Homo sapiens: one gene and its partner. The protein of the gene in region 1 interacts with the protein of each later gene in a pairwise test. Each region holds a gene or a part of one and is shown on either strand. Other genes may lie near its edges.

Evidence for each region.
Region 2: the proteins of DBT (region 1) and MMAB interact in binary tests that used the Homo sapiens proteins (3 or more experiments, as listed by UniProt).

Annotation. Positions count from the first base shown.
Region 1 is NC_000001.11:100,211,702-100,215,513, reverse strand, and holds part of DBT (lipoamide acyltransferase component of branched-chain alpha-keto acid dehydrogenase complex, mitochondrial isoform 1 precursor), read left to right. Parts: intron 1-530; coding exon 531-697; intron 698-1,563; exon of another isoform or gene 1,564-2,291; intron 2,292-3,812. UniProt on the Homo sapiens protein: The branched-chain alpha-keto dehydrogenase complex catalyzes the overall conversion of alpha-keto acids to acyl-CoA and CO(2).
Region 2 is NC_000012.12:109,556,505-109,560,316, reverse strand, and holds part of MMAB (corrinoid adenosyltransferase MMAB precursor), read left to right. Parts: intron 1-1,161; coding exon 1,162-1,221; intron 1,222-3,180; coding exon 3,181-3,289; 3' UTR 3,290-3,812. UniProt on the Homo sapiens protein: Converts cob(I)alamin to adenosylcobalamin (adenosylcob(III)alamin), a coenzyme for methylmalonyl-CoA mutase, therefore participates in the final step of the vitamin B12 conversion.

The DNA of each region.
Region 1 (3,812 bases):
TAGCTTTTCCAGGAAACACTTACAATTTATGTGTATCATTATCTTCTGAAGAGTAATACGTTAGCAGGTTTCTTGAAATATAAACTTGTATATTGATAATTGCTCTGTTTGAAGACACACAGGACATTTTAAACATTCACTATTTGTAGTTAGCTTTCAAAATAACTAGTTCTGATTTGTTATTTATAAACTCCTGGAATGATTAACTTCCAGAAGAGTGGCTTTGCAGGAAAGCTGTTAGGGAAATACATGGCTTGCATTCTTTTGAATTTTTTATATAACACAGCATTTAAAGCAGTTACCTGCTATGTTATTGCATTTGCCACTGAGTGTCATGATGCAGTCAGTGTTCCAGCTTTGAAATTAGTGACTTTCAGTGTAATGTAATGAAGAGAGTAGTAAGAGGAAGGGTTTAACTGAGAGAGTAAAAGACATTAGAGAACCTTCCATTTTAGTTTCTTTAAAAAAAAAAAAAAGGATGAAGAGATTTGAGAATTTAAATAAATGAATAACAATTTAATGCTTTTCAGGCTTTCAAAAAGCAATGGTCAAGACTATGTCTGCAGCCCTGAAGATACCTCATTTTGGTTATTGTGATGAGATTGACCTTACTGAACTGGTTAAGCTCCGAGAAGAATTAAAACCCATTGCATTTGCTCGTGGAATTAAACTCTCCTTTATGCCTTTCTTCTTAAAGGTGAGATTCATTCATTTCAAACAAGGCTTGAGTAGGACATTTATTTGTTTGTTTGTCTTTTTGAGACAGAGTTTTGCTCTTGTCACCCAGGCTGGAGTGCAATGGCACAATCTCGGCTCACTGCAACCTCCACCTTCCGGGTTTAAACAATTCTCTTGCCTTAGCCTCCTGAGTAGCTGGGAATACAGGCACCTGCCACCACGCCTGGCTAATTTTGTATTTTTAGTAGACACGTGGTTTCGCCATGTTGGTCAGGCTGGTCTTGAACTCCTGACCTCAGGTGATCCACCCCCGCCCCAGCCTCCCAAAGTGCTGGAATTCCAGGCGTGAGCCACCATACCTGGCCCCAAGTAGGACATTTAAATTTTGCTTTGCCAACATGCAATATGTTGACTGTGGCCTTGAATAAAAATATTACTTTTCGCAACATCAGATAGTTAGAAAATGTGCCATTTCTTTGTTCAATAGGAAATTATAAAATTGAGATTTCTGTACTATATTTTTAGCTGCTTATCTTTGAGCTAGGTAGAGACAATTCTGCCAGTTAAGTAAAGCCTCTGATCCTAAAAGGATCACTCCAACCAAGTCTTGGTTTGAACTAAAATGAGACTTGATATTAATTTTGCAATATCACTGACATATATTTAATATTTATTTTCATTTACTCAACCAACTTATATTGAGGATCCTGGGAATCATTTCTAGTGCTAAGCCTTGGGACCAGTATAAAATGGAGTAAGACCATCAGCTAACCTTGAGCAGCATACAGTCTAGCTCACATTAGTGACTGTGCAGCAGCTACCATGTGCCAGCCTCCATAGTAAGCATGCTGTATACATTATCTCTCTCTTTTTTTTTTTTTTTTTTGGTATGAATCTCATTTATTGAAAAGATTATTTCTCACCTTTCTCAAATTGAAGACTGCAAAAAATAAAAGCAGTGCTTCATTGAGTTGTCATGAGCCTGGGGCAGGAGCAGCAGCGCTGCCTCTCCACGCTCCGGGAAACCGCAGCTGGCGTGTGCCACATCGGTCCCACCTCGCTTTACAAAACAGTCCTGAAGCTTAATCAAATAAAACTATTGAACACAACATTTACATTAGAAAAAGAGAGCTGGGTGTAGGAAAGGCCGAGCCTGGTGTTCCCTTTAAGCGAAGGTGGCTCCACAGTTGGGGCATCTTCGCTCCCTCAAGGCAAAACAGCAAATGAACCCAAAGGGGAACAGGATGATGGCCAGGAAGATGCCCAGGAAGGTGAAGCAGTCCTGCAGCCCCCCGACCCTGCAGACGGGACAGCCTCCCACGACCACGATAGAGTTGGTAGGATAGCGGATGACGGTCCAGCTGTGGATGTTGTAGACCCTGGGATGGTGGGTGGGTGTCCGTGTGACGAGGTAGGAGTAGGGCGGCTGCGGGGGCGCGGCGGGGATGGCGCCGTAGCCGTGCGGGCCTCACGCGTAGTCGCCCTGGCCGGCCTCCAGGTTGTAGGCGGGCGGCCGCTCCTGCAGCAGAGTCTTGTGGTCCATGGCGGCCCGGCTCGGCTCTGTCGGCCCCGGCGGGGACGCGGCGCACGCCCCGGGTGGCTCGGGCCCCTCTGAGGCAGACGCGGGGCAGGGCCCATTATCTCTTAATTCTCAGAGTAACCCTGACATGTAAATATTACTGTCTCCACTTTCCATTTAAGGAAATTGGGGCTCAGAGAGGTTGAGAAACTTGTTAAGGACTTACAGCTAACAGGTGGAGAAGCTCTTTCAGGTTCTGGTCTGTTTTACTCAGAAGGACATACTGATGTCTGTAATGCCAACATGTCCAGTCCTTTCTCTACACTGCACCAAGACTGGTCTTCCGTAAATCAAATTACTGTAATATTCTCTGATTCTTTTCAGTGGTTCCCTTTCATTACCTTCAGGATAATTTGTATGCCATACTCCTTAGTGTGGCATACAAATGTGTTATAAGTCTCTGCTGCCTGCCTCTCCATTCTTACCTCACTCCCTCATATTAAGGTACCCATAATTGCTGGAATACACAATTCCACCTGAAGTGCCCGTTCTTCTCGATCAAACACCTGCAAATCCCAAACTGTGGTCAGGTACAGACTCCTTCTGTGGCTGTCACTATTTGAATTAAATACTTTTGTTTCCCACTGTTAACTTATCTCAGTGCATTGAGTGCTTACTCAGTTTTCTCTTCACTTACTCACTTACTGGGCGCTGAGCCTCATGAGGCAGAAACTATTCTTCTTTATCTCCCTTTTTCTTTCTTTCTTCTTTTTTTTTTTAGAAAGGGTTCACTTTGTTGCCCAGGCTGCTGGAGTGCAGTGGCACAATCACAGCTCACTGCAACCTTGAACTCCTGGGTTCAAGTGATCCTCTGCCTCAGCCTCCCGAGAAGCTGGAACCACAGGTGTGCACCACCACACCTGGCTAATTTTTTTTTATTCTTAGTAGAGATGTGTCTCGCAGTGCTGCCCAGGCTGGTCTTACAGGGATGAGCCAGCATGCCTGGCTATTTTGTTTTAAAATAAAACATAAGTTTCAGAACATTCGAAAAAATACTACACAGTATTGTAGAGGGGGAACAAATGACCTAATCCATTGACACATACCTTGTATTTTCTTGGACAAAATTTGGATTATACTCAAATATTTTTATATGTAACAGTTTAGACTAACCTTAGGGGTTTTTAGATAAAGACTATTAAAATTACAGTTATTGAATCAAATGCTTACTAAAACTTTCAAGTTGGCTGGGCGCAGTGTCTCACGACTGTAATCCCAACACTTTAGGAGGCCAAGGCAGGCAGATTGCTTGAGCTCAGGAGTTCAAGACCAGCCTGGGCAACATGGTGAAACCCCATCTCTACAAAAAATACAAAAGTTACCTGGGCATGGTGGCACACGCCTATAGTTCCAGCTACTCGGGAGGCTGAGGCAGGAGGGTCACTCGAGCCAAGGACGTTGAGGCTACAGTGAGCTGAGATCATGCCACTGCACTGCAGCCTAGGTGACAAAGAAAGACCCTGTCTCAAAAACAAACAAGAAAAACTTCCAAGTCATAAAAATTAAGGAACTCGTAGCAGTTCTTTTAATTATATTTTTCTTCAGTTGATCTACT
Region 2 (3,812 bases), on another chromosome or scaffold:
TGGCTCAGAGAAATGACACCATGGTCACGGTCCCCCACATGGTTGATAGCAGAATCCAGATTGGAGTCCACGTCTGTCTGGGCCAAGCCTGAGCTCTTCCACGGTCCCACACCACTAAGGTTTTGTTCTTTATGAAAGGCTCTCGGGCCCAGATAGCTCCTTAGAGATCCCAGGTAACAGAACAAGCTTTGGCTTCAAAAGAAAAAACTGTCATTTGTACAAAGCCATCCATCAGCAGTGCTCATAATAGCAAGAAACTGGAAACAACCCAAAGGCCCCGAAAACAGGCATGGCGGAGCAGCTGATAGGTCCTCCATGCAGCAGAGAGTTACGCAGCCATGGCAGTGGCAAGGTGCAGATTGTCCTGAGGTGGGGACACACACCTGGGGCACCTCGGGTGAGGAAGCTCCTCGCTGAGCATGCGGTGCCCACTAGAGACAGCCTGGAGCTCTGTGACAGGCCTGGGTGCACACCCTCCTGGGCCGCTAGCCGGGTGCATGGCTTTGGGTGGGGATGAGAACCCTGAGGCTGGGCTTTGGGTAGCTGGCTTGCCAACAAGGGGTATGCCACAGGGTGATACCTGGGAAAGGCTCGGCAAGGGCCCGCCACCACACTGGTGCCCAGCAGATGGCCGTCCAGTGTCTAATGTATCTGCAAATAGACTGGCATGGACCCCAGGAATCCAGAATCCTGCGGAATCAGGAGCTTGGTCTGCCTGGGTCTTTTTCTCCCCTGTGAAGTTGTTCTAAGTCATGATGTACAAGGGGCTTAGAGTTTAGCCCATTGGGAATTAAGGGTCAGGCCCCCACTTCCTTTGAAGGCTAGAGGCAGACCACCCCAACTTCACCCCACCCAGACCCAGGTCCAGTGGTACAAAAGCTGGCTGGCTGGGGTGTGGTGTAGGCCAGGTGGCTCCCTCAACTCACCAGCCATCCTTGATCCCTCCTTGGCCAGGCCGTCCTGCGATGTGCTGGTGGAAAGGGGGCCGATGGCCTGTTTAAACCCACCTGTGATGGATTTGTCATCTCCACTGCCGGCCGAGCCTGTGCAGGTTCAGGTTGAGCGGTGGCAGGATGTGAAATGCTGCTCAAGGTTTAGGCCCAGGTCAGAGCCTGTTGAGCCCCATAATGTCACGTGACTCAGTGTCTCCTCCCTTTCTAGTGTGGTGCCTCTTGTCCAGATGGGAGAGACCGATGCGAACGTGGCCAAGTTCTTAAACAGGTACTCGCGTGGAACCTGGGGGTTCCTCTCTGAAAGCCGAGGCTCATCTGTGGGAAGTAGCAGCGGTGCAGCGGTCCGGGAAGCAGTGTGGGGCAGCATTCCCGCACCCCCTCCTTCATTCCCTTAGTGTTTATGAACATCTGCTCTGTGCCAGGCACCACGCCGGGCACAGGGGAGGCAGTGGTGAACAAGGTGGGCCCTGTGCCTGTCCCGATAAGATTTAGATCTTATTGGGAGAGGCTGCTGTAAAAACCAGGAAGAAAAACCTAAGTGCAAAGTGGCATTGCGGGGGCAAAGGGCGTTCTTAGAGGCTGGGTGCTCAGGGGAGGCCTCTCGGTGGTGACTGACCAGGGAGCCAGGCTTCAGGCCCTCTCTCAGCCAGTTTCCTGTCCCCGAGAGGGCCTGCGGCAGCATGAACCAACAAGAGAGCCGGGCCAAGCTGCGCTCAGGGGACCCCATGCAGGCCCCAGTGAGCCAGGCTAGCCCAGGGAGGGCTTCCTCTGCCTCGCGGCCGGCCCATGAGGCTGGAGCCACACCTGGCCCAAAGCCTGCTCTGCGGGTTCCTGCCCCAGCCCTGGCTTCTGTGGCATCAGTGTGGGCAAGGCCAGAGCCTGGGGGCAGGTAGAGAGCTGGGGGAGCAGGTCTGCACCCCAGGAGCTGTCCTGGGTGTCTAGAAAGTGACCTCAGGCCCTTGACTGTGGCCACTCCTCCCAGAGACATGGCGCTTTGACGGGTCCTGAGCAGCTCCTTTCCTTCTGGGAGGGGGGTTTCGCCGGGAGTGAGGAGCAGGTCTACTTCACCTTCAAAGCAGCAACCCTGCGGTCCCATAGCATTGCACGGGACAGGCCATTTCATCTCCTCAGTGAGGCTTCACAGAGCCAACAAGCAACAGGCACACCACTGCCCTCCAGGAGCATGCGGCCCAGGGGTAAAATACCCTGAACAACCTCCCCTTCGCTCTTCCTGAGAGCCAGCCGTGGGGCCCAGGGGGCCTGAGTCAGGGGAGGACTCAGGAGGATGTGGTGTGGAGCTGGCCTCTGAGGGCAAGACTGGGGCAGAGAGAGAGGGAGGAACGTGGTGCCTCGTGCTGGGAGTGAAACAGCAAAAGGTGCGGACAGCAGAAGGCAGAAGAGCTGACAGCGTAAGCGCCTTCTGGGGCCCGTGGCGTCGTCCTCTAGTTCCCTCCACTGCTGCCCCTGCAGAAGGCCTCATGCACAGATGACCATTGCTGTTGGTTCAAAGGAGGAGGCGGGAAAGGGGCTGGGCTCTGGTCTCTAGAGTGCTCCAGCCTGTGCTTCTCACCCGGTACCTTTGGCGATGTTTGGAGGCATTACTAGTTGTCACACTGGGTGCAGGGGTGCCACTGGCACCTGGTGGGTGGAGACCAAAGGTGCTGTCAGCATCCTACACTGCACAGGATGCACAGGACAGCCCCGAACACACAGAATGATCCAGAATGTCAGTAGGGCCTAGTCCAGCAGTGTCAGCATCAGCCAGGGCAGGAACTAGACCTGCAGAGCCCCGGGCCCAGCCCAGCCCAGCCCTCCTGAGTCAGAATCTGCACGTCGCTGAGATCCCCTGGTGATGCCTGTGCACACTGTAGTTTGGGAAACACCCAAACTGATCACGCACCTGAGCCCTGATCACTCAAAGGTGCAAAAACCGGCTCAGAGAGGAGTCCAAAGTCATCTGCCCCATGGGGTAGGGCCGGGGCAATGGCCTCATCCTGCAGGAATGGCCCCAGCCTTGACACTGGAGTAGAGTCCTTGGCATTCACAGCAGCTGGCCTCGTGTGCCATCCATTAAGTGCAAGATGGCTGGGCCCCCGCCCTCCCTGCACAATGTGCCCAGAGTGCGTCATTTATATCTCCTCCTTGTAGGCGGATATGGGAAGACCCAGTTAGCGTTGATCTCTCATTTCAAACCATTCTGTTTGCTTCTCTCTCTCTGCCCCTCCAGACTCAGTGACTATCTCTTCACGCTAGCCAGATATGCAGCCATGAAGGAGGGGAATCAAGAGAAAATATACATGAAAAATGACCCATCGGCCGAGTCTGAGGGACTCTGAAATCACAGAAAGTGGGAGCTTGGAGGATCCCTCCATGGCGATGGCCGTGGAGAGAGGAGCTTGCCCTTCTGGGGTCCTGGTTCCTGAAGAGCTCACCCAGAGAGGCTCAAAGCAGCCTTTTGTCCCAGCTCAGCTTTGATCTACACCTCTTGCCACCTTCCTCAAGGGACTGTGACCCTTTGGGGATTCTGTCCCTGACCCTGCTTCCCCAAGCTCTCCTGGGTCTTGGAGGGATGTGGGAATGAATTGGCATTGCAGGAAAGACAGGTAAAGTGATTGCTGCAATGAGAAGGAGCTGTGCGGAAAAGGAATAAAAGTTGGAAAGGCTGGAGCCGTGTGTGTGTGTGTGTGTGTGTGTGTGTGTGTGTGTGTGTGTGTGAGAGAGAGCCCTCCCACTGCCAGCTCAGGTTGTTCACAGATTTGGAATGGGACCAGAGGCCCTTGAAAATGTAATTGTGATTTACCTGTGCCAAAGGTGCTTTAAATGTCACATTTGTAAAGGGGAAGGCGGACAAGATTTGGA